Linked DNA regions of Homo sapiens. The protein of the gene in region 7 interacts with the protein of the main gene of each other region in a biochemical or structural test. Each region holds a gene or a part of one and is shown on either strand. Other genes may lie near its edges. The genes, in order: RIGI, FHL1, JOSD1, USP8, STK33, CDC73 and USP15.

The links.
Region 1: the proteins of USP15 (region 7) and RIGI form a complex in vitro, tested with the Homo sapiens proteins (one study listed by BioGRID).
Region 2: the proteins of USP15 (region 7) and FHL1 form a complex in vitro, tested with the Homo sapiens proteins (one study listed by BioGRID).
Region 3: of the proteins of USP15 (region 7) and JOSD1, one has a biochemical effect on the other in vitro, tested with the Homo sapiens proteins (one large-scale study listed by BioGRID).
Region 4: of the proteins of USP15 (region 7) and USP8, one has a biochemical effect on the other in vitro, tested with the Homo sapiens proteins (one large-scale study listed by BioGRID).
Region 5: the proteins of USP15 (region 7) and STK33 form a complex in vitro, tested with the Homo sapiens proteins (one study listed by BioGRID).
Region 6: the proteins of USP15 (region 7) and CDC73 form a complex in vitro, tested with the Homo sapiens proteins (one study listed by BioGRID).

What each region holds. Positions count from the first base shown.
Region 1 is NC_000009.12:32,457,500-32,460,196, reverse strand, and holds part of RIGI (antiviral innate immune response receptor RIG-I), read left to right. Parts: exon of another isoform or gene 1-682; coding exon 683-826; exon of another isoform or gene 827-1,155; intron 1,156-2,697.
Region 2 is NC_000023.11:136,203,547-136,207,046, forward strand, and holds part of FHL1 (four and a half LIM domains protein 1), read left to right. Parts: intron 1-1,355; exon of another isoform or gene 1,356-1,393; intron 1,394-2,860; coding exon 2,861-3,042; intron 3,043-3,469; coding exon 3,470-3,500.
Region 3 is NC_000022.11:38,690,944-38,694,443, reverse strand, and holds part of JOSD1 (josephin-1), read left to right. Parts: intron 1-3,500.
Region 4 is NC_000015.10:50,430,905-50,434,404, forward strand, and holds part of USP8 (ubiquitin carboxyl-terminal hydrolase 8), read left to right. Parts: intron 1-3,500. UniProt on the Homo sapiens protein: Hydrolase that can remove conjugated ubiquitin from proteins and therefore plays an important regulatory role at the level of protein turnover by preventing degradation. Converts both 'Lys-48' an 'Lys-63'-linked ubiquitin chains.
Region 5 is NC_000011.10:8,475,729-8,479,228, reverse strand, and holds part of STK33 (serine/threonine-protein kinase 33), read left to right. Parts: exon of another isoform or gene 1-1,945; 5' UTR 1,946-1,979; exon of another isoform or gene 1,980-2,477; 5' UTR 2,478-2,542; intron 2,543-2,556; exon of another isoform or gene 2,557-3,129; intron 3,130-3,500. UniProt on the Homo sapiens protein: Serine/threonine protein kinase required for spermatid differentiation and male fertility. Promotes sperm flagella assembly during spermatogenesis by mediating phosphorylation of fibrous sheath proteins AKAP3 and AKAP4.
Region 6 is NC_000001.11:193,125,031-193,128,530, reverse strand, and holds part of CDC73 (parafibromin), read right to left. Parts: intron 3,420-3,500; coding exon 3,314-3,419; intron 1-3,313.
Region 7 is NC_000012.12:62,389,404-62,392,903, forward strand, and holds part of USP15 (ubiquitin carboxyl-terminal hydrolase 15), read left to right. Parts: intron 1-27; coding exon 28-111; intron 112-201; coding exon 202-296; intron 297-379; exon of another isoform or gene 380-393; coding exon 394-585; intron 586-1,460; coding exon 1,461-1,576; intron 1,577-1,753; coding exon 1,754-2,026; intron 2,027-2,412; coding exon 2,413-2,483; intron 2,484-2,852; exon of another isoform or gene 2,853-2,868; coding exon 2,869-2,984; intron 2,985-3,500. UniProt on the Homo sapiens protein: Hydrolase that removes conjugated ubiquitin from target proteins and regulates various pathways such as the TGF-beta receptor signaling, NF-kappa-B and RNF41/NRDP1-PRKN pathways.

The DNA.
Region 1 (2,697 bases), on a different chromosome or scaffold from region 7:
CAGAATCACGGAGGGAGGCAGAAGGCACTTCTTACATGGCAGCGGCAAGAGAAAAATGAGGAAGAAGCAAAAGTGGAAACGCTGATAAACCCATCAGGTCTTGTGAGACACAATCACTATCATAAGAATAGCACAGGAAAGACTGGCCCCCCATGATTCAATTACCTCCCCCTGGGTCCCTCCCATAACACGTGGGAATTCTGTTAAGATACAATTCAAGTTGAGATTTGGGTGAGGACACAGCCAAACCATATCAGGGGCTCTTCTGCCTGTTGTATCACTCACTGAGTTTGTGCCTGCAAATGGATATAATTATGCCTGAAACAGCGCATATTGTATATCTGGTACAGGTTTTGTTTTTTTTCCCAAGTTTTGCCAAACACTAAAGTAGAAAGCATAGTTCATATGACTATTCTATGGACATCTTTAGTGCTTTTATGAGCATTTTTGATGAAGAAATTGAAAGACTAATTGGAGGCCACAATTAAGCATTGACTAATACTAAGTTAGGAGAACCAATAAAATCTGTGATTTTACAAAGTCAGGTACCATATGTTCATGGAAGTTGTATATGAATGATTATACATGTGCGTGCATGTATATGTATTGTACGTATCTGTGCCTGTTTCTTGCTATATATGTTGTACTCAAATTACATTTGCGGTCTTTCTTTTTGCATTAGATTCTGCATATACAGACTCATGAAAAATTCATCAGAGATAGTCAAGAAAAACCAAAACCTGTACCTGATAAGGAAAATAAAAAACTGCTCTGCAGAAAGTGCAAAGCCTTGGCATGTTACACAGCTGACGTAAGAGTGATAGAGGTAAGCTGCCTTTTTACAAAGTGCCTGGTCATGTTTTAGCACTAGCTACAGCTTACTGTTGGTGAAATATTTATAATAAAACTACTATTATTTCCATTGTTACTGTGGCCATGATCTGTGTATTTAAAAAAAGCTAAGAAGTGAAAAAAAAATACTAAATGTTCAATAATAAAGAAATAGTTTTTGGCCAGGCATAGTGGCTCATGCCTGTAATCAAAACACTTTGGGAGGCCAAGGTGGGCGATCACGAGGTCAGGAGTTCGAGACCAGCCCGGCCAACATGGTGAAACCCCGTCTCTACTAAAAATAAAAAAGTTAGCTGGGCGTAGTGGCAGGTGGCTGTAATCTTAGTTACTCGGGAGGCTGAGGCAGGAGAATCGCTTGAACCGGGAGGCAGAGGTTGCGGTGAGCTGATATCGCGCCACTGCGCTCCAGCCTGGGTGACAGAGCAAGACTCTGTCTCAAAAAAAAAAAAAAAAAAGTCATGCTAAATGCAATGACGTGTCCTGGATTAGCTCCTGGAACAGATAAAGGATACAACTAGAGAAAGAGTGGTAAAATCTGTAGTTTAGATAATAGTAATGTACTGATGTTAATTATCTTGGTTTTGACAAATGTGCTGTGGTATATGAGATGTTAACATTTGGGGAAACTGGGTAAAGGGTATGCAGAAATTTTCTGGGATATCTTTGCAATTTTTCTTTAAATCTAAAATTGTTCCAAAGTAAAGTTTATTTTAAAAAATTATGAAGTTTATGTAGTATAATGAAAAACTGCTTACAAACTAATGGTAATAAGGAAAAAAGTAACCAGAACACAGAATTGTAAAGATGCTACTTTGTAGCTGTGTGAAACAACAGCAGCAAATACATTCATTGTCATTGTCAAGAGAAAAAGTCAAAAAACCTACCTTGCTACAGAAAAACAAAGGCTAGGGGAACTATACCAAAATGTATTAATATTTTGGTGGTGAGATTCCATGACTTTTTTTCTCTTTTCCTACTACCTTATGTTTTCCAAACATTCCTTTTGGGCTATGGATCACTTTTATAATGAAAACAAAATATCTCCTTATTTGTAAAATGTGACATCTGCAGATTAGCCTTCTATTGCAGCCTTATATTTCTTTCTTAAAACTTTCAGAGAAAGGGTTAGAAAAATCTCCAAAGAGAAATATGGGGTATAACTCTTGCATGGGGGGCACAGTGGAGGGGCTGGGCTGGCTCAGATGAGGAGTTATTACTTCAGGATGTTCCGTTCGTCTTCAGAAAGCAGAAATCTCTCATCAGCTCAGCTGTTTGGGCAAAAAGCCTATTAGGAGTCATATTGCTAAGTTCCCTTACCTTTCTAAGTCTGCTTCTTTAGCTGTAAAAGGTCCTTTCAGCTCCAATTTGGGTGATTGTTCTACTAAAAATGGCCCTTTTAGACCCTATGTTTTCCTGAGGGACTAGTATGTTGGATCTGCATTTGTTTCTGAGCTGTTTACTCTAAAGTTGACTCTAGGTGGGGCCTGTGGACACATTAGTCCCTGACCTTCTTCAATTGCATCTTGACCTTGGTCGTTTTCCCTGTATCCTTTGGATTGTGCCTGCCAGGGCCACTGGTGAACTTCAGCTTCACAAATTTTCAGCAAACATCGCTTCTGTTTTTGAATAATGAGTATCTACCTTCAGAAGCTGGGTTACCTGGAACCTTCTTAATCTTCTTCTTTATGAGGTGCCCAGTGTCCTCACTTGCAACCCCACCCTGCCTGTAGAGGGGAGTCAGGTGCATGGATCCTCTGGACTTTGGGTGAATCTATTTTTTTTTTTCCTCCAATTGTAAAATAAGTGAGACCCACCTGTTCTTTGCCTCAGATTATTGTGGGGTTT
Region 2 (3,500 bases), on a different chromosome or scaffold from region 7:
TCTGACATTTTCAACACCCTTTGTTACTTCTATCTTCACTGGTGAGCTGTGGATTATTTTATCATCTGGATGCTTAGAACTCTGAGCAAGTCATGTTCTAGAACTATGAGACTAAACAATGAAGAACTTTGCACTGGTAATATCAAAGTACTGAAAGTGTGTGGTTTTAAAGTGTGAAAAACATGGCAGTTAAGATCTCTCAGGTACTTTGAACCATAATGCAGTTTTCCTTCTCTTCAAAACCTCTACTTCTAAATGGCATTCATTGTGTTTTCTAGTGTTTTTTCTTTGGTATGACACTAGTTAACCTGTATTTCTTACCATAAAGCTAGGACTCAAATACTAAGAGGTTTGACTCACCTTAGGTGGAACTTTATATAGTACTTTAACTTAGAAATATTTGGAATCAATTTCTGCTTATAAAGGTATCAAAAGCAAGTGATACTAAAACGAGTAGGTTCAAAGTTGTATACTAAATAGAGACCTTGGTAAGAGAGAATGAGGGATTTTCAAATATGGTCCAGAAGATAGTCTCTGAAAGGCTAAACCAGCAATGGTTACTAGCCATGCAGGAAGCCAGTGCTGTCTAATCTTACAAATTCTGTTTTCCTGCCAAATGGCATTTAGGAGCAACTGATAATTTATTTCTTGCCACTTGCCGTTACTGGAGATTTATTTGGTTTCTCAACTCAGCCCTTAACAAGAAAGCAAGTCTTTGTTGAGGGCACAATATTATCAGTATGGCAAAGCTAAGACGAGGCTTCTGTGTGACACTGGAAAGACCAACAAGAATGGATTAAAGAGAGTGATTTTCCATATGCTGTCACTGGGACAGGTACTTTTCTCTGTAGACACACAGGCTAAAAGCAGTTTAAAAGCTTCCTTACCTAAACAGTACATAGTTCAAGGAGATAGGCCCTGTGTCCATTGCGTCTCTAGTTTTTGTTTCTAACCCATTATATAAAGAAACATCCCAGTTTGCTTTTTAGAGAAAAGTTCAAGTTAGAACCATTCTCTGGTCTTGCTAAGTCTCTTAATTGTGACACAACTGTCCTAAGCAACTGTCCTTGCACAAGAATGTCACTCATCTGCTTCATCTGCCAGCTCCTTAGAGATGAGGGGGGTCTGTGTGTCAGCAGGAGGCAGAAGGCCCTGTGGCTCATCCAGTGGCCTGATTTCCTTTGTTTGGAGGCTTGGTTCTGAGTGAGAGTTCAACAGCCTTTGCCCAGGCGGCTTCTCAAACACAGGGTGTGGTTTCCTTAGCTCACTCTCTGCTGTTTGGTTGCTCATGGCAACAAGATCCAAATAACTTGGACATGTGTTTGTATAAAAAAAACCTGGGAATGGAACCCAAAGTGAGACTTTGGGGCTTTCAGTTAGTGGAAGAGCTGCGGTGAGTACCAGGCAACTGCTCATTTATTTTCTCTCATTCTTTCTCTCTAAATTACGCTGGAAGTTTGCTAGCACAATAACCATGTTTGTGGATAGTTTTAGAAAGTAGTCTCAATTCTTGTATTTCCTGCACAAATGAAATAATTGCTATCTATTTACCCGTGCAAATTTCTTTTTCGGGGGAGAGGAACAAATTAGCATATGTTTAAAGAAGTTGAAAGCTAATAGAAACTCATATTTGGTACCTTTTGGGTGGCAGGATTCTATAGGAAATGCCTTGGCAAAGGGAGCTGCAGAGTGCCTTAGTAATGCTTGGGATTGCAGGCGTGTTGTCTAGGGCCACAGCCGGGGAGGGGACCAGGGAGGGAAGAGGGGTTGTTCATACGGAGGGAGTGGAAGGGATTCTTGGAATAATTTTTTCCAGACTCTATTTTAAGATTATAATTTTTAAGACAGCAAATATCCCAAATGGTAATACTGGTTACACTTCTATGAGCATATTGATTCTCACTTGCTTGACTCAAGGGAGGGTTTGATTTTGGTCACAAAGCCACCCGTGACTATGACAGATAATTCAAGGTTGCCAAACTTGCCTGTGCCAATTGACAAAGCCATTTATATAAGTCCTCTCTTGCTATATTGCTCTGGCCTCAAAAGGCAGTAAACTCTCTTGGACAAAACTCTTTAGGATCTATTCAGGGATTTAACACTTTTCTGCTAAATTGCAAGTAAATTTAAACATTTTAAACAAATTAACAAGGATTGCTTAGGTACCTGGTGTGGTACAGAATGAGCTGTCAGTTTCTATTCTGATGAATAGAATTTTATAGATAGGAGGAACGGGAGGCCTCCAGAGGATACTACCCTCCCTAAAAAGAGACGGAGGAAGAGCTGAAAGCGGGCAGAGAGGCTTCTTGATGACAACGTGGTGGGCTTAGAGAAGCTGCTGCCTGCAGGCGGGGCCCCTGCTTTCCTGCACCCCTTTGAGCCTCTGCCCCACACTCTTCCTTTGTATAAAACAACTGCTTCTTGCCTGCCTGCCCCATCACACCCCTCCACTCCATCGGGTCACTGCTCAATGGCACAATAGCACTGCTCAGCCATACCTCCCAGCATCCTGTCCCCTATCTGGTGACTTGGCCAACACAGGCTCTGATCCACTTGCCCCGCTCCGCATCTTTTGTGAATCAGCACAGTTGATATATCTGAGCAGGGGCTTCTACCATCTCCCCAGGGAATCACTAGCCATCGGCCATCTGGCCCCGCGGGGTGCTTTTGTTCCTGGAATCATAGTGAAGTATCTGTTGTCTTGGTGCCTGGTAGTCAGCTCGGCTGAAGGGGAAGCTGGGTCTTGGTCCTCAGACCCCATGGACTCCAAGGCAGCATTGTGCAGGTGCCTCTGGGAGCCACTGCTCAGGGTGCTGGGGCATTTCCTGTGGTCATTTGTCCTGTCTGCTTGCCCCCGCAGGTCCCTCCAGCTACAAGGTGGGCACCATGGCGGAGAAGTTTGACTGCCACTACTGCAGGGATCCCTTGCAGGGGAAGAAGTATGTGCAAAAGGATGGCCACCACTGCTGCCTGAAATGCTTTGACAAGTTCTGTGCCAACACCTGTGTGGAATGCCGCAAGCCCATCGGTGCGGACTCCAAGGTAACGGGCATCCCCATGTGCCAATGGGAAGGGCTGGGTTTTGGAGTGTCCTTTGCCCACAACCATGGCAGCAGCAGCTGGCTGTTAGGATTTCCCAGCATCACTGCAGCCACCTTGAGGCCTCAAGGAAGCCTCCTCCACTCCCCAGGCCACAGTGGCCCGAGCTGTTTAATGTGGGGCTTGACTGGATGGGCGCCAGCGCCCTTGCCAGCTCTTTTGATTGCATTCTAAATATTTCAAGAATTGTGAGATTTTTATCCTCACCTCAGCGTCCCTCCTATAAGAATAGTCACTGTGGGGCAGTCCCAGGTGTAAGGGACTGTGTCATCTCAGTGGTCAGTCCCAGGGAAATCAGCCTTATGGGAGGGCTCCTGCCACCACCCCCAGCACCCCTCATGGTGGCCCACCCTGTCTGCTTGGTTTCCAGGAGGTGCACTATAAGAACCGCTTCTGGCATG
Region 3 (3,500 bases), on a different chromosome or scaffold from region 7:
GAGTCTCAAGAATACTTTCCACTGGAATCATCAGGATCCCATGGAACTCAGTGGGACTGGTGTGTTGAAATATCCAGAGCACTCTTCAGTATTGTCTTAGGGTAGAGGCTGACCCTAGCCCTGCCACTCACCAGCTGTGCCTGACTGTGCAAGTCACCATAACCTTTGCACCTCAGCTTCCATGTTTATGGTATCTCAAGATGGCTGGAAGTGATAAAGCCCATAAAAGCAGCTAACACAGTGGCCACTTGATTACTGTTAAAAGTACAAGCAAGTGCTGGTGTGGTGAATACGCTGGGTGGGCCCCACTTATTCAAATGACCATTCCTCTAGCATGAGATGGAAGCTACTCAATATTTCCTGTATTCAAATTGCCTAACGTGTTTATTGAGTTGCCAGTGCCTAGCTGTGAGGGATATAGAGTAAAAAACTATCCAGGGATTTAGTGTTTGATTGAACATATATGAAATAACTGAATTCTCCAACAGTCCTATAAAATAGTAATTATTTCCATTTTTACAGGCAAGGTAACAGGCATGGAGATTAAATCCCACAGTTAGTGTTGATCGGTGCTAGGATATGAACTCAGATATGTATGGTCCTCACTCTCCCTCCCTTTTTTACAGAGGATCCAGGGAAGATCCTATGGAAGAGATAGGGTGTGAAGGAGCTGTAGGATTTGGCTTGGAACAGGAAATAGGATAAAAGAATAGAGGCTGCTGGGCACAGTGGCTCAAGAGGGAGGCTGAGACAGGAGAATCAGTTGAGCCCAGGAGTTTGGGGCTACAGTGAGCCACAATCATACCACTGTAATCCAGCCTAGGTGACAGAGGAAGAAAAAATAGAATAAAGGCCATATGATCATGGTGCCTAAAGTGCACTAAGCCCAGTGAGAGGGATATAGCTGGCCAAGTGGGGCCAGGAAGTGTAGAACTGGCCAACCAGGCAGTTGGTACCATTGTCAGTTCCTATATATACAAAGGGAAGTGAATTGATGCCTTGGTGAATTTGGCAGGAACATAGAGGCTGAATTGGTGGAAGGAGCGCTTGGAAGCAAAGTGATCAATTTTTAGGAATCTGTTTCAGAAGTCAAGGTGTGAGGTAAGGAGCCTCTGGTTAGGAGAGAGATGGAGTGGTAATAGGAAAGGATTTGAATCCAAGACAGAAGATGAAGGACAGGGAAGAAAGATCATTGGAAAGCTAGTTCTGTAAGGTACACCTCAAAACAAATGTGTGGTCAAATTTGTTTGGGAACTGAAGCATATTTTATAATCCCCTTTCCTTGAGATTCAAAGTGAAGATTAGCATGTTAGGGACTCCAAGAATTCTGCAGGAAACCCATTTACCTACTTGGTTCATTCAGCTGTTATTGTATTGGATGCCTTCTGGGATCCTCTGTTAATGAACATGGAAATGGCATCTCCAGGAGCACCCTTGGGAAGCGCCGCTCTAAGGTTTGAGCCTGGTAGGGAGTTAGATGGTGAATGAGGTGGAAGACTCAGCATTTTCCTTGTTGGAGCCTTCATTCATGTACTGGTCAGAGACTTCAGTGAAAGGAACAAGAAACTTGGGAAAGGAACCAATTATATCAGGGGCTAGGCCTTCTTTCATATGTGTTCTGTTCTCTTTTTTTCTTTCTTTTTTTTTTTTTTTTTTTTTTTTGAGACAGAGTTTTGCTCTTGTTGCCCAGGCTGGAGTACAATGTCATGATCTTGGCTCACTGCAACCTCTGCCTCCCGGGTTCAAGCGATCCTCCTGCCTCAGCCTCCCGAGTAGCTGGGATTACAGGCACCTGCCACCACACCTGGCTAATTTTTTTGTATTTTTAGTAGAGATGGGGTTTCACTATGTTGGCCAAGCTGGTCTCAAACTCCTGGCCTCAAGTGATCCTCCCACCTCGGCCTCCCAAAGTGCTGGGATAACAGGCGTGAGCCACTGCACCTGGCAGTGTGTTCTCATTTAATCCAAACGTGTGAGTACCCATGGAGAGCCTTTGTCTTTTTAAGCTATGTTTCATCCCTAGTCCTCAGGGATGTAGCTGGCCTCTCTTCTTTTCAAGCCCCCATCCCCTGCCACTCTGATTCTTGGGTCCTTGCTGTAAGACAGCAAGCATAACTTTGGATTCAAATGAATCCACAGTGGAATCCTAGTTCTGTCACTTGCAAGTGCTCATGGGCAGGTCAGTTAAAACCACCAAACCTCAGTTTTATGGACCTATACAATAGAAATAATTCATATCCTCATAGGTTTATTGTGAAGATTAAATGAAATGCAAATTAAAGTACCTTATCATAGTGCTTGGCACAGAGATTTTTCAATAAGTTATAGTTATTATTACAGGTAAGATAAAGTTTGGTTGCAGATTTCTTTGCTAGCCCTGGAGATGAGCATATAAGCCCTTTTAAGAGTCAGTTACTGATGTTTACAGGGAAAGAGAAGGACAACAAAAATAAACACTGAACATTTCAGCAAACATTCCTTGAGCACCTGTCTTGTGCCAGGCACTCTTTAGGCCCCTAGCAGTGTAGCGTTCACAGATAGTCAAGGCCCCTGCTGTCAGTCTAGTGTAGAAAAACAGACCAATGAGAAACACATCTGGTAGTGACAGGGCTGTAATTAAATCAAAAGGTTGATGTGAGGTAGTGACTGGGAGAAACTTATGGTTGGGTGGTCAAGAAAAGGCCTCTCCGGAGGTTGTAGTAAGCTGAGATCACTCCATTGCACTCCAGCCTGGGCGACAGAGCCAGACTCTGTCTCAAAAAAAGAAAAAGAAAAGGCCTCTCTATGGCAGTAACATTTGACACCCAAACAATAAGGAACTACAGAAAGAACATTCTAGACAGCGGGAACAGTGAGTGCATGAGTGCACAGTGAGAAAAAGAGCTTTGTTTTTAGGGAACAGTAAGAAGGTCAGTGTAATAAAAGGTAAGAGATGAGATCTGCAGGACCTTGAGGGCCTTGCATGCCAAAGGAAGTAGTTTAGAGTGTATTTAAGTGCTTTAGGTGCCATCAGAAGGTTTTAAGCAGTGGCAGGAGTATGTTTGTTGTTTTTAATTCTGTGGGTTTTTTTTTTTTTTCTTTTTTTTTGAGACAGGGTCTTACTCTATCACCCAGGCTGGAGTGCAGTCATGGCTCACCACAGCCTTGACTTCCCTGGCTCAGGTGATCTTCCCACCTCAGCCTCCCGAGTAGCTGGGACCATAGGCACATGCCACCATGCCCGCCTAATTTTTGTATTTTTTGCAGAGACAGTGTTTTGCCATGTTGCCCAAGCTGGTCTCTAACTCCCAGGCTCAAGCGATACTCCCACCTTGGCCTCCCAAAGTGCTGGGATTGCAGGTGTGAGCCACCACTCCCGGCCAGGAGCATGGGGTTTTGTTTTGTTTTGTTTGTTGGTTTGTTTTTTGAGACGGAGTCTCACTCTGTCACCCAGGCTGGATGCAGTGGTGACATCCAGCCTCTGCCTCCTATGTTCGGCTCACTGCAGCCTCTGCCTCCTA
Region 4 (3,500 bases), on a different chromosome or scaffold from region 7:
ACAGTTTTGGTTGTTACAACTGGAAGGGAAGGATGATAGTAAACTGGCGTCTAGTAGAGGTTAGGGATGCTGCTAAACATCCTGCAGTGCACATTGCACAGAGCAGCCTCTCACAACAAATGTTTATCTGGTCCAAAATGTGAGTGATGGCAAGGTTGAGAAACGCTGCTGTAAACTGATCAGTTTTAAACTGCAGTATTACTTTTTTTGTTAATAGCACTACTGCTCTTCATATTTTGCAGGGTACAGTGTGTGTGCCTCTGTGTGTGTGTGTGTGTGTGTGTGTAAGCAAGAGAAAATACTGTTTCGATCAACCAGTTACCAAAGCATGTTTCTACCATTTTGTGTTCTTTTCTGCAGTGACCTTGTAGTTACTCTTTTCCATAGTATCATTCCCTTGTTCTCATCTCCTTTCAATCTTACTTACATATCCCTAATTTGACCATCTTGAGATAATATTTTTCCCATCAGGAACTGGCTTTTATTGCCTGCTGAATCAAATATAAAGAATTCTGGATGGCTTCCAAAGTCTTCCATAATGTGACTCCATCTCCTACATAATATAATTTAGTTATTCTTGTTAGTCAACATTTTTTTTTCCTTTTAGTTAAATTCAGCTGACAGGGAGAAACATTTATTAAAGTGGTGACTATGTGAGGACTATTGAGATAGGTGCCAGGGATCCAAAGACATGTCAACATTTTCCCTCTATCCGATTGATTATTTCCCAATAACTTCTGTAATATTCCTTATTATTACTATTTTTTCCGAGATGGAGTTTCACTCTTGTTGCCCAGGCTGGAGTGCAGTGGTGCGATCTTGGCTCACTGCAACCTCTGCCCCCTGGGTTCAAGAGATTCTCCTGCCTCAGCCTCCTGAGTAGGTGGAATTACAGGCGTCCACCACCATGCCCAGCTAATTTGGTATTTTTAGTAGAGACGGGGTTTCTCCATATTGGTCAGGCTGGTCTTGAACTTCTGACCTCAGGTGATCTGCCTGCCTCAGCCTCCCAAAGTGCTGGGATTACAGGTGTCAGCCACCATGCCCAGCCAGATGTCCTCCTTTCTTACCCTGTTCTTAGCTAAATTCTGTCCTCAAGGCCAGGTTCTCTCTCTCATCACATCATCATGAGCACTGCGTGTGTATGAGGATTTTAAAGCCTTATAGTAATTGTCTGTTGATCCCATTACTGTATTTAAGGAATGATATAGATCACAAGCATTGTAGGATTCACATGAAGAAACAAATTCCAAGAACTGGGACCATAAAGGATGGAAGAGATGGAACTTAAGTTTGTTTCTTCTTGTAGCTGAGACCTCAGATGTGCACCACTACGCCCAGCTAATTTTTAAATTTTTTGTAAAATTTTTTGTCTTTACTTTGTTGCCCACTTTGTTGGCTACCTACCATTTCTCCCTATCTCTGCCCTTTAGGCAACAACAATACTCAACATAAATATCTGTTCTTGAACTCCTGGGCTCAAGCAGTCCTCCCACCTCAGTCTCCCAGAGTGTTGGGATTACAGCTGTGAGGCACCACGCCCAGTCAGTGCACTGCTTTTTGCATGGAGAAAGTCTTGCTGCTACTTTAAAAAGGTCAGTGTGCTTAATTGATCTACATTCTGTCACAAACTTCTTATTTTATCACAAACTGATAACAAACAGTTCCCCAATCAGCACTGGTCATTGGACCATACTTGGAGTTACATTGCTGTAGTGTGAGACTTTCATACTTTTTTTAAAATTGTCACCTGTATTAAGAAATACATTTTACATTTTCATCCAGTGTTATATCATATACACATGTACATAACTGAAACAATTTTACGAAGCAGTACCTAACCTTACTATGTGTGACATAGTCTGATGTTTGCTATTTTTTTAATGCTGATCATGACCTTCTAATGGATTTTAAAAACACTGCCCTCAAGCATTTAGCACAGTGCTAGAGACATAGTAGTTGCTCAGAAAATACCATACATTTTAGCAGTGATTAAATCTTGAGAGGGTTGAGCCTTCTTAATACTTGAGGATTACTTTAAAATGTTATTTCATTGGCCGGGCACGATGGCTCACGCCTGTAATCCCACCACTTTGGGAGGCCGAGGCGGGCGGATCACCTGAGGTCAGGAGTTCGAGACCAGCCTGGCCAACATGGAGAAACCCTGTCTCTACTAAAATACAAAAATTAGTGGGGCATGGTGGCGGGGCGCCTGTAATCTCAGTTACTTGGGAGGCTGAGGCTGCTTGAATCTGGGAAGTGGAGGTTGCAGTGAGCCAAGTTCATGCCACTGCACTCCAGCTTGGGCGACAGAGTGAGACTCCGTCTCCAAAAAAAAAAAAAGTTATTTAATCAATACTTAGTTGTTTGTGGCACCTTATACAGAACGAGTGTAGAGTGGATTATGAGATTTAAGACAGCGAGAAGATACTTATGTTGAGTATTGTTGCTGCCTAAGGGCAGAAATAGAGAGAGATGGTGGGTGACCAACAAAGACAACTTTTGCTTTCCTTTCAATATTGCCAAAGACCTTAGGAGTGGCTGGTGTGAATCCCTGCTTAAAATCAGGACCAGTTTGAATGACTGCAAACCTCATTTTTCACTTTTTACCTTTTAGTCTTCACTTTGTGGTTCCAGTCATCAAATCCCTACTCTTTGTCTTAGAAAGGAGCAGAAGGATGTCAGAGAAAGAACATTTTCTCTTTATTTATTTATTTTTTTTTGAGATGGAGTCTCTGTTGCCCAGGCTGCAGTGCAGTGGCGCGATCTCAGCTCACTGCAAGCTCCACCTCCCAGGTTCGTGCCATTCTCCTGCCTCAGCCTCCTGAGTAGCTGGGACTACAGGTGCCCGCCACCGTGCCCGGCTAATTTTTTGTCTTTTTAGTAGAGACGGGGTTTCACCGTGTTAGCCAGGATGGTCTTGATCTCCTGACCTCGTGATCCGCCCGCCTTGGCCTCCCAAAGTGTTGGGATTACAGGCGTGAGCCACTGTGCACGGCTGCATTTTCTCTTTGTTAACTCATTTTCAACACTTTTGGGTTTCACTTTTGGAGCACTGCTGTTTGACTAAGGCTGAAGTTCTTTGTCAGGTTTACACATCTTAAGAATTTTTATTTTTTGTTGTTAGAAGCATGTTAATTTTTCTTGCATATACTTAGTTATTTTTTTTTCACTTGCAATCCTTCTTGAAGCATAAGGTTTTTTGTTTTGTTTTGTTTTGTTTTGTTTTGTTTTAAAAGACAGAGTCTTGCTCTGTCGCCCAGACTCCGCTCACTGCAATCTTCACCTCCTGGGTTCAAGCGATTTTTCTGCCTCAGCCTCCTGAATAGCTGGGATTACAGGTGTGCGCCACCACGTCCGGCTAATTTTTGTATTTTTAGTAGAGATGAGGTTTCACCATGTTGGCCAGGCTGGTCTCAAACTCCCGACCTCAAGCAGTCCACCTGCCTCAGCCTCCCGAAGTGCTAGGATTACAGGCCTGAGCCACCACGCCCGGCTGC
Region 5 (3,500 bases), on a different chromosome or scaffold from region 7:
GATGTTGGCCAGGATGGTCTCGATCTGACCTTGTGATCCACCCGCCTCAGCCTGCCAAAGTGCTGGGATTACAGGCGTGAGCCACCGCACCCGGCCTCTGTTCTCGCTTTTAACTGTCAGTATAGGGGCCACATTTAAGACTGTCCTTCCGTATTACTGCTTAATCAGTGAGGAACATCATGCAAATTAAAATAGAAAGGAAAAGTTAATAGTAAACATCACTCAAACATTTAAAAAAATTCTGAAATAATGTGAATTTTAAATATACTGTAAATCCTTTTATAAGACAATACAGACTCATTTTCCTAATCATGCCCTTAATGAAAAGAATAAACAAGTGCTAGTCTTCCTTAAAATATAGCAATATCATCTAGAAAACTCACTGGGCCCTTCTTTAGGCTTTGTAAACATGTTACTAAAGCAGTCAGTCATTTGGCTTGGTCTGCAGAATGTCAGACAATTCGTAAGTTTTTTTTTTTTTCCCCTTTACTTGAATAAAACACATTTTGACTGAATTGACTATTTAGGTTTCTTGTAGACACAGTCTTAGCAAAGAAAACTAAAAAAATTGCTTTTGGAGAAGAAAATTATAGCTAGTTATATCTTATAAAACCATTCTTGTGTTCATTTTCTTGAGGAAATTGCTGTAAGTGTATCTTCTAGGGCCAATATGTAAAAGACCTTTTTATGATTAAATTAAAGCCCAGGGATTTTCATTATCAGAATTGTTTTATTGACTTGCCTTAGTTCTAAAAATAAAATGAAAACCTTAAGCCAAAGGAAGGCTCATGTATTAGTTAAGTACTGACATAATTTGAACTTATTTTATTTGCTTATATTATGTCCAGTACCTATGTATGTCCAATCTTTGGAGACACAAAGAAACATTATTGTATTAGAAGATTCTTTGGTTTTTGTAATACATATTTTTATATCTAAAGTCCTGTTTAAACATAATTCCATGATTCTATAGAAAAAGAGCTATTAATCTTTGTGTTTACATAAGTTTGCAATACTTGATTAATTTTAAGCCTCTAAAATATGAGTGACATCATTTGTCCTGTGAAATAGTAGATTTGTTTTAGTAACAAATCTTTCAGATCAATTCGTAAATGAGAAAGAAATAAATGTGAGTAAACATTTGTTCTATCTTGGTTTTTGTTTAAACTAAAATAATTAGAATTCAGCCAGCCAAAAAGAAGTTAAATTTGAAATCTAATTCTTGTCAAGAAATTTTGCATGCAGCTATTCAACCTGTTGTTTTAGAATTGCTGTGGTAAGAAAGTAGAACATTATTTTGGCAAATATAGCACTTGGTAGACTGGAGAGCAAAAATGAAACTTCTCAGTGAGTAATAGAAAGAAATCCTATGCTTTATGCATATAGCTACCAAGTACTTCTAAGGCAACTGATAAATTAGAAGACTGGAGCGAGAAAGTACTCAGAAGTCTGTGACAATGTCAGTGATATGATAATGACTTATTGAAAAATTGATGAAAATTAAAGGAAATGCTTTCTGAACAAAGCTAAGAAAAGAATAGCTGTTTTTAGATCCCCCAAAATCTATCTTAAAATGAAAATTTTAATATTTAAAGATTCCATTGAAAATTTGTGAATATATATATTTGTAAACCTTGAAGGATATGGTAAGTATGCTTTTAGGAGTACTGTTTATCATGAAAGAACTCAGCTGCAGTTAAATAAACCTGTACGTTACGAATACTTCTTACAATTTCTTATAAAAAGTACCATAAAATCAATATTCTTAATGTATGCAAAAAATGATGTTTTACACATCTGACATGGGACTTCTCTACACCTCAGAGAGAAAGCACTATTTTTCCCAAACAGAAAGCCTATCATTTGCAGATCTACTCCACTGCTCTGAGTCATTGATGGTTATGGGTTTTATATTTAACCTGAAATGCAAAACATTTTCTTCTAGGCCTGAAGTTAAATCATTTTGGAAAGTGATACAGGTACATTCTGAATTTTCTTTGTCTTGCTACATATTCTTGAAAAACCAGGTTAAGTGTTTATAAGAGATGTGTATGTGTGTGTGTGTGTGTGTGTGTGTGTGTGTGTGTGTATTTTGAGTGGCATCAGTTGCATTCTTTTCTTCCTCTGCCTGTCTGGAGGGCACTTTTAATGTACCTGTCCTCATACTCTCCATTATGAGTTTTAATCACAATAGAAATTTTTTTCCCACCACTTTGATGAAAGGTCATATTTATTGGGCAGACTTATCTATTCTATTTAATAATCTTATAATATACTATATACATTACCTGGGGTAAATGTAAGTACAGCATTTAGGATTTTAAAATCTATTTACAAATGAGACTGACCTGTAAATCCCCCTTTTGGGGAATACTACTATGGTCAGATTTTGGTTATTTTAAGTGAATAAAATGAACCGGATGGCTTTGCATGCTCTGAAACCATTTATATAAGAATCATCTGTTCAATAAAAGTAGGAGAGGACTCTGCTATGAAACTTCCTGAGTGAAATGATAAGTGGCATGAAGAAAAACAAAGCAAGGTAAGGGGGGAGAGGGCATGGGCTTGTTGTTTTAGATGAGGTGGTTAGGAAAGCCTTTCAAATGAGCAGAAGCCACAGTGAAGCATGGGAGCAGACCGTGTGAATGTTTGAGGGAAGAGCATCCCAGGCAGAGGAAGCAGAAGGGCAAAGCCTTGAGAAGGGAGTATACTTGGCATATTAGAGGAGCAGCAAGAGGCTACTGTATCTGAGAGAAAGGAGATATGAAAGCTGAGAGGTAGTGAAGAGTACGTTTATTTGGGACCGTATAGGCAAAATTCAACAAAATTTCTTTGTCATTTCTGTTTCTTAAGCTTACTCTTTAATTATGTTTTTCTATCTTTTAGATTTGACTGCACACTTAGTATATTTTTATCCTTTCTCCTCTGATTTTAATAAAGGTTTAAGAATATAAATTTTCTTTTAAGTGCAGCTTTGCCTGCATTCTGTTAAGCTTAATGGCCATAAGTCACATGGCTACCCCTAATCTAAAAGAGAAGCCCGGAAATGTAGGATGTTAATGAGCACATTGCTGCCCCAAAGAAGATCAGGATTCTGTTAGTAAGAAAGAATGAGAGGACAACTTTTAGGTAAACTACTAGCAATATCTTTTATAAAATCGTATGAGCCTGGCAGATTTTCCTGCCAATCACAATAGATAAGGATTTGATAAAAGCACAGCTTTCTGATTAGAAAACCAGGTATTTCTTTAATGAAATAAATATATTTAATTTCCTATTCTAGTCAAGTTTATTCCAGTTCAAAGGATAACAGTATATTGCATATATCCCCAGGTTTATCAATCTATGACTACAGAATCTACTTTTAAAGACTGTCTGAAATGGTATAGCATAAAACCATAATAATGTACTCCCAATTACTTCTGGAAGTTTCTCAAAGTACTCCTTTATATGTACTGCAGAGTGTATTTTTCTTCCTCCTCAACTGAGATCTTTCCAAC
Region 6 (3,500 bases), on a different chromosome or scaffold from region 7:
GAGTTCGAGACCAGCCTGAGCAACATGGAAAAACTCCAACTCTACAAAAATATAAAAGTTAGCCAGGCATGGTGGCAAGCGCCTGCAGTCCCAGCTATACTCCCAGCTACTCAGGAGGCTGAAGGAGGAAGACAACTTGAGCCCGGGAGGGTAAGGCTGTGGCAAGCCAAGATCCTGCCACTGCACTCCAGCCTGGGTGACAGAGCAAGACTCTGTCTCAAAAAAAAATAAAAAATAAAAATAAACCAGTCTATATGGAATATCATAAACAGTTAAAAGATTTGAGTTAATTTTAAGTTACTGTTTCTAAGTCTAATAACTTACATCATCATTTGGTCACTACTGAGTTATGTACACATCACAATCCACTGAAAAAGATTACATCTACTCACACTAAAATAGGAACTAAGGATCAGGAATCTGTTTTCAGAGTGGTCTGCTCAGCCGGACGCAGTGGCTCACGCCTGTAATCCCAACACTTTGGGAGGTCGAGGCGGGCGGATCGCGAGGTCAGGAAATCAAGACCAACCTGGCTAACGTGGTGAACCCCCGTCTCTACTAAAAATACAAAAATTAGCCAGGCATGGTGGCGTGTGCCTGTAATTCTAGCTACTTGGGAGGCTGAGGCAGGAGAATCCCTTGAACCCAGGAGGCGGAGGTTGCAGTGAGCCGAGATCACGCCACTGCACTCAAAAAAAAAAAAAAAAAAAATGAGTGGTCTGCGCACAGGAAAGAGCAAATAACACAAAGTAATTAGGAGACAACAATCTCGAATTCATAGAATTTTGGAATTTTAGAATCCTACTCTTTCAATCTGGCAAATACTTATGAAAAATGAGTTAAATCTTATGCAACCAAGGGTCCCAAGGTCCACAGTAACAATTACAGCTATCAGTTATATGCACAACCATTTCCCAAAAACAGAATCTATAAATCTAAGCCAACTATCTGAATCTTTGTTACACTAAAATGAATATATCCAACAAAACACTGTAAGAACTACCTAATTTAGTTTTTAAAGATCTGAGTTAAAATAACCTTAAAGACGGAGCTGGTGCTATTTTTTTCCCCTTATTTTCCCAAGTAGTCCCACTCTAATTTTATTTTTTTAAATATGTAACATAAATATATATTTCTTACTCAGGAAAGCAGAAGCCTTATGGTTTAATACAAAGCCCACTAAGTGACGGGATACTTTCTCAATTGCTATAATCACACACACACACACACACACACACACATTTTTTTTTTTTCCCTGAGACAGAGTCTTTGCTCTATCACCCAGGATAGATGCATTGGTGTGATCATGGCTTACTGCAGCCTCAACCTCCTGGGCCCAAGTGATCCTCCCACCTCAGCCCCTTGAGTAGCCAGCTGGGAGTATAGGTGCACACTACCACGCCTGACTAATTTTTTTTATTTTTTGTTTTAACAAAGTTTCCCTATGTTGCCCAGGTTGGTCTTGAACTCCTGAGCTCAAGTGATCCTCCCACTTGAGCTCAGCCTCCCAAAGTGCTGGGACTACAGGCATGCACCACCACACCTGGCTTTTAGTTGCTTTAGACAACAAGTTATTGTTTGAAAGATACATAAGCCAGAAACCTTAACTATTTCTAGTTGGGAGGGAGGTTAGAGTTATAGAAGTTAAGTTTCACACAGCTTAATGTGATCCAGCAACGGTGTTAGGTAACTCAAAAAGCAGCTCCAGTGATGACAGACACAGTGATATTTTAAAAAATTGTTTTAAGAACTATAAGAAAAGTTTAAGAAGATTGTTTTAAGAACTATAAGAAATGGGAAAAAGTAGTTATTTATAAATACATTTCATACTTAATTTTAAGTGTATACTTGTAAGCAAAAGCAACAAATATTAAAAGCAGACATTTAATTATTTCAATTATATCTTCAAAAAATTTTATGTTCAACTCTACCAAAAATAATCTGAGGGAAAAGCTCATTTAAAAAAATTAAATATCTTTTAGGCCATTTTATGTGGGCATTATAGTACTTTTCCATGTCATACAGCTATCCTATCCAAATAACTCTGAATCTTATTTACTTATCAATTATAATATACTGCTATAATTTAGGTCTTAATGATACTTCCCTACAGATGAAGAATCTCATCATCATAGTTTATGAAATTAGTTCTTTTCAAGTTGTTTCCAAATATTTCCTCTGAGTAATAAATTTTCAAACACTGAGAAAGCAAGCAAAACTAAAAACAAATGAACTTCTCCAGAGTACTAAAACAGCTGCACAAAACTGATTAAGAAACAATTTTTTTAAATGTCTGCTAATCTTAATCCTTACAACCAAAAAAAGTTTTCTTGAGATTAAACTAGAGTTCTGAAGTAACAGGGTCCTTCCACAGGCTTACAAGTTTTTCTAAACATCTCTATAAATACTTTTAGCGTTTCGGGTTTTCTTTTTCTTGAGATGGCATCTCACTATGTTGCCCAGGCTGGTCTTGATCTCCTAGGCTCAAGCAACCCTACCGCCTTAGAGTCCCAAGTAGCTGGGATTACCAGCGTGCACTAAGAAGCCTGGCTCTATAAATCCCTTTAAAACTTCCTTTGTTATAAACATTACCCACACTTTACATGAAAAAATATCACAGATTAAAAAGTCTGTGTAAGTCACACAGTCACCTAATTTTGACTCTCCTGGAGACACTCATACAAACCTTTCATTCTTTTGATTTGAAACCCATGAGGGAAGCTATCCATTCCAAATGATACCTACTACCACGAAGCCAAAAAAAAAAAAAATGTGTTAATACAAAAATTAGCCCGGCATGGTGGGCCATGCCTATAGTCCCAGTTTCTCAGGAGACTGAGGTGGGAGGCTGGCTTGAGCCCGAGAAGTAGAGGGTACAGTAAGCCGAGATCACACCACTGCACTCCAGCTTAGGCAACAGAGCCAGATCCTATCTCAAAAAAAAAAAAAAAGTTTTAAAATGAATTATTGGCCAGGCACAGTGATTCATGCCAGTAATCCCAGCACTTCGGGAGGCCGAGGCAGGAGGATCCACTGAGGGTAGGAGTTCAAGACCAGCCTAGGCAACACAGCAAGACCCCCTCATCTTTAACAACAACAAAAAAAATTAGCCAGATACGGTGGCACAGGCCTGCAGTCCTGGCTACTTGAAGGCAGAGGTGGGAAGATCACTTGAGCCTAGGAGTTCGAGGCTGCAATGAGCTATGATCACACCACTGCACCCTAGCCCGGGCAACAAGGCCAGACCCTGTCTCTTAAATAAATAAAAATAAAACTGATAAATAGATAGATAAGTAAAATGAATTCTACTTACAGCTGCACGTCGGACATAAACAGGATGAGAAAGGTGCACGTTATTAAGTAGAAATAAAATGGAATCCAATGTGTAGTACTCTCTGGGTTGGCCTTCCTTTCCAGTCCTGAAATAATTAAGGCAAGATTTTTTTTACTGACAATTCTAATTCAACTCTTCAGGCTGGATTCATTTATATAAACAACTT
Region 7 (3,500 bases):
TTCATTACAATTTTTTTTGTTTTTTAGTACAAAGTGGTTGTCCCCAAAATTGGAAACATATTAGATCTTTGTACAGCATTGTCTGCTTTGTCAGGAATACCTGCAGATAAGGTAAGATGTTTCTGGGGTTGAAGTATATAAGTTGGTATTTAGTTTCTCAGTGCTGTAAAACCAGCTTAATAGAAATTCGTTTCCTTTTAGATGATAGTTACTGATATATACAATCATAGATTTCACAGAATATTCGCTATGGATGAAAACCTTAGTAGTATTATGGAACGGGATGATATTTATGTGTAAGTATAAAACTCATTGTGCAAAATATTACTTGAAAAAAAATTAATAGAAGTAACATAAAATTTTGAGAGTTTATGGTCAGTTTTGTCCTTGTAGGTTTGAAATTAACATCAATAGGACAGAAGATACAGAGCACGTGATTATTCCTGTTTGCCTAAGAGAAAAATTCAGACACTCGAGTTATACCCACCATACTGGTTCTTCACTTTTTGGTCAGCCCTTTCTTATGGCTGTACCACGAAACAATACTGAAGACAAACTTTATAATCTCCTGCTCTTGAGAATGTGGTAAGTGCCAGACAATTCTACATTGACAAAATAAATATGGGAATAAAATATAAAATAGCTAATAAAAATAAACACATAAGGTACTATTGGAATATAATTATTCAAGTCTGTATTATCTCAATTTTGTTCATAGTCAGATTATAGTCCTAATCCACTTTCTTATTCATGTAAAACATATTATGGAGGTAATTTCAAACCCAGGAAGCACGAAGTCTGTAGCAGTTTTAAACCAAAAGTTTACAGTTAGAAGGACATAGGAATTTATGTTATAATAATTATGTGTTACATGTTCATTCTGTGAAATCATAACAAATGTCAAATGCCATATGTTTGCACTGTGAAATAACAAATGTCAAATGCTTCATTTCTTTATATACATTACCAGTTCATGATTAATAGTATTGTAAGGCAGCCTATTTTTTGCCTTCCTGAATAAATCCCTTGATTTGAATTATGAAGTTATCAAGAATGTCATTTGATCCCTTTTATCCTTGAAAGCTGGTATATTTAGTATTCTTTCTTGCATATCTAATTATTATAGTTTCATAACCCATATATAAAGATCACATTATACAAATATAAGTGTTTTTAGCAACAATATATACCATCTAAATAGGGTAAGTTGAGAAATTATTTGCAACAAACATTTAACATTTAACCTAAAAGGTAACATATTAATTATTTTTATAAAGATGAGCAAAACAAATTACTAGTCAGTTATACTTATGGTACTAAAAGTTTGAATTTATCTTTGAATCTACTAAGTGACCACTGTTACTGCATTAAAAAGTTTTGTTTTACTGATAGAAGGAAAACTTTTTAAAAGTTTTTATCTTTGTAGTACTGAACTTGTTTGATTTTTGATTTTACTTAAGCCGATATGTCAAAATATCTACTGAAACTGAAGAAACTGAAGGATCCCTACACTGCTGTAAGGACCAAAATATTAATGGGAATGGCCCAAATGGCATACATGAAGAAGGCTCACCAAGTAAGACTTTTCTGTTAAATTGTACAAATGTTTCACTTAGATAATTGCCTCAGAGAAAAAGTTAAGAAAATGGGAATTAAAGAACTAAAAAATACCTGGAAACCTAGGATTAATAATATTAATAATTTAAAAATATAGCATTGGGTTTATTTAAAGCTCTCTAATATCTAAAATTAGGTGAAATGGAAACAGATGAGCCAGATGATGAATCCAGCCAGGATCAAGAACTTCCCTCAGAGAATGAAAACAGTCAGTCTGAAGATTCAGTTGGAGGAGATAATGATTCTGAAAATGGATTATGTACTGAGGATACTTGCAAAGGTCAACTCACGGGACACAAAAAACGATTGTTTACATTCCAGTTCAACAACTTAGGCAATACTGATATCAACTACATCAAAGATGATACCAGGCATATAAGATTTGATGATAGGCAGCTTAGGCTAGATGGTAAGTATTTGTGAAAAATGGCTTGAACATTAAACAAGCCGAGCATGTTATTTTTTTTTTAGGTGAAAACCATGAAATTCAGCTCTGTCAAGAAATATACCATTTACTTTTCTATCTCAAATTTTACATGAAAGGACTTAATATCTAAGTAGACTAAAATGTGTGTTTGTGTTTCATAAATGGAGATTGAACTCATGCTTCAGTTTTCTATCTTTTTTTAAACTCTTAAATTATTTCAATGGCTTGGAAACTGCTGTTTGCCCTAATCACCAGTACAAGTAGAAAAGATTGCTGTTTGTTTATTCTGGTGTATATCCTAACATTAAAATATACTTTAATACTAAGACATATTAAATTTTAAAGAAAAAATATGTTTTCCACCTTAGAAAGATCTTTTCTTGCTTTGGATTGGGATCCTGATTTGAAAAAAAGATATTTTGATGAAAATGCTGCTGAGGTAAGTCATCACTCACTCACTTATTTACCTTTCCTTGATTTACTTTATGTGATTACCAGAGATAATCATACTGTTGTGTTACACTCTTTGCTTCCACCAAATATGTTTATTTTGCCAGTAAAAAATTGGTCATGAACTAGAAAAAAAAGTCTTTGCAAAAATACCTTTTTTTTTTAAAGGTTCAGAGTTCATTTTGAACGTGTTTTGGTCATCCATATAGAAGTGTACAGGAATTATTTAGAAGTATATAAATCTCAACTGAAATAAGCTTTATGATTCTTTTGAGAAAGTTTAGGAGTTTTCATTATTATTCATAGTAAGATGGTATCACTAAAATGAGTTTTGTTTCATTTGTTCTCTTAACTCAAGAAATACTTCTCTTTAGGACTTTGAAAAACATGAAAGTGTGGAGTATAAACCTCCTAAAAAACCCTTTGTGAAATTAAAAGATTGCATTGAACTTTTTACAACAAAAGAAAAGCTAGGTGCTGAAGATCCCTGGTAAGAGACAAAATTAAATAATTGTTTTTGTTTTCTTTAAGGATTTATTCTGAGATATGTGCCACATCAAGTTGAAAAAGTAATTACTAAATTCTCTTTGATGTTTTAAATAGTAAAGGATTCTTTATATAAGTTGTAGCCTATTAAGAGGGATGGGAATGTCTTAAAAAATACGATTACAGTGTTGCCTTAATTTTATTACTGTGTTTTTCATAATAGCCATTATACTATTAATTCATTTTAGTTACCTTTTTTCCAAGAAATTTTAGCTATGTAATCATTTTGAGAGAAGCTTTTTAGGAAAAATGTAGTGATATATTTTGTGGTGTTATTCCATTAGAGCCCAGATTTGAGATTTTCTAATACCTGTCTTCCAGCACAGATTTGTGACCTATGTCTTTTTTGCATACTAAAAGAGAAATAATCTAGCCCTCATTATGTCTTTAAGTATTTATTTGTATATTAATTTGTAATGGTTTAACCTATTTGGAAAATGTCTTGAAAATAAAAATAATA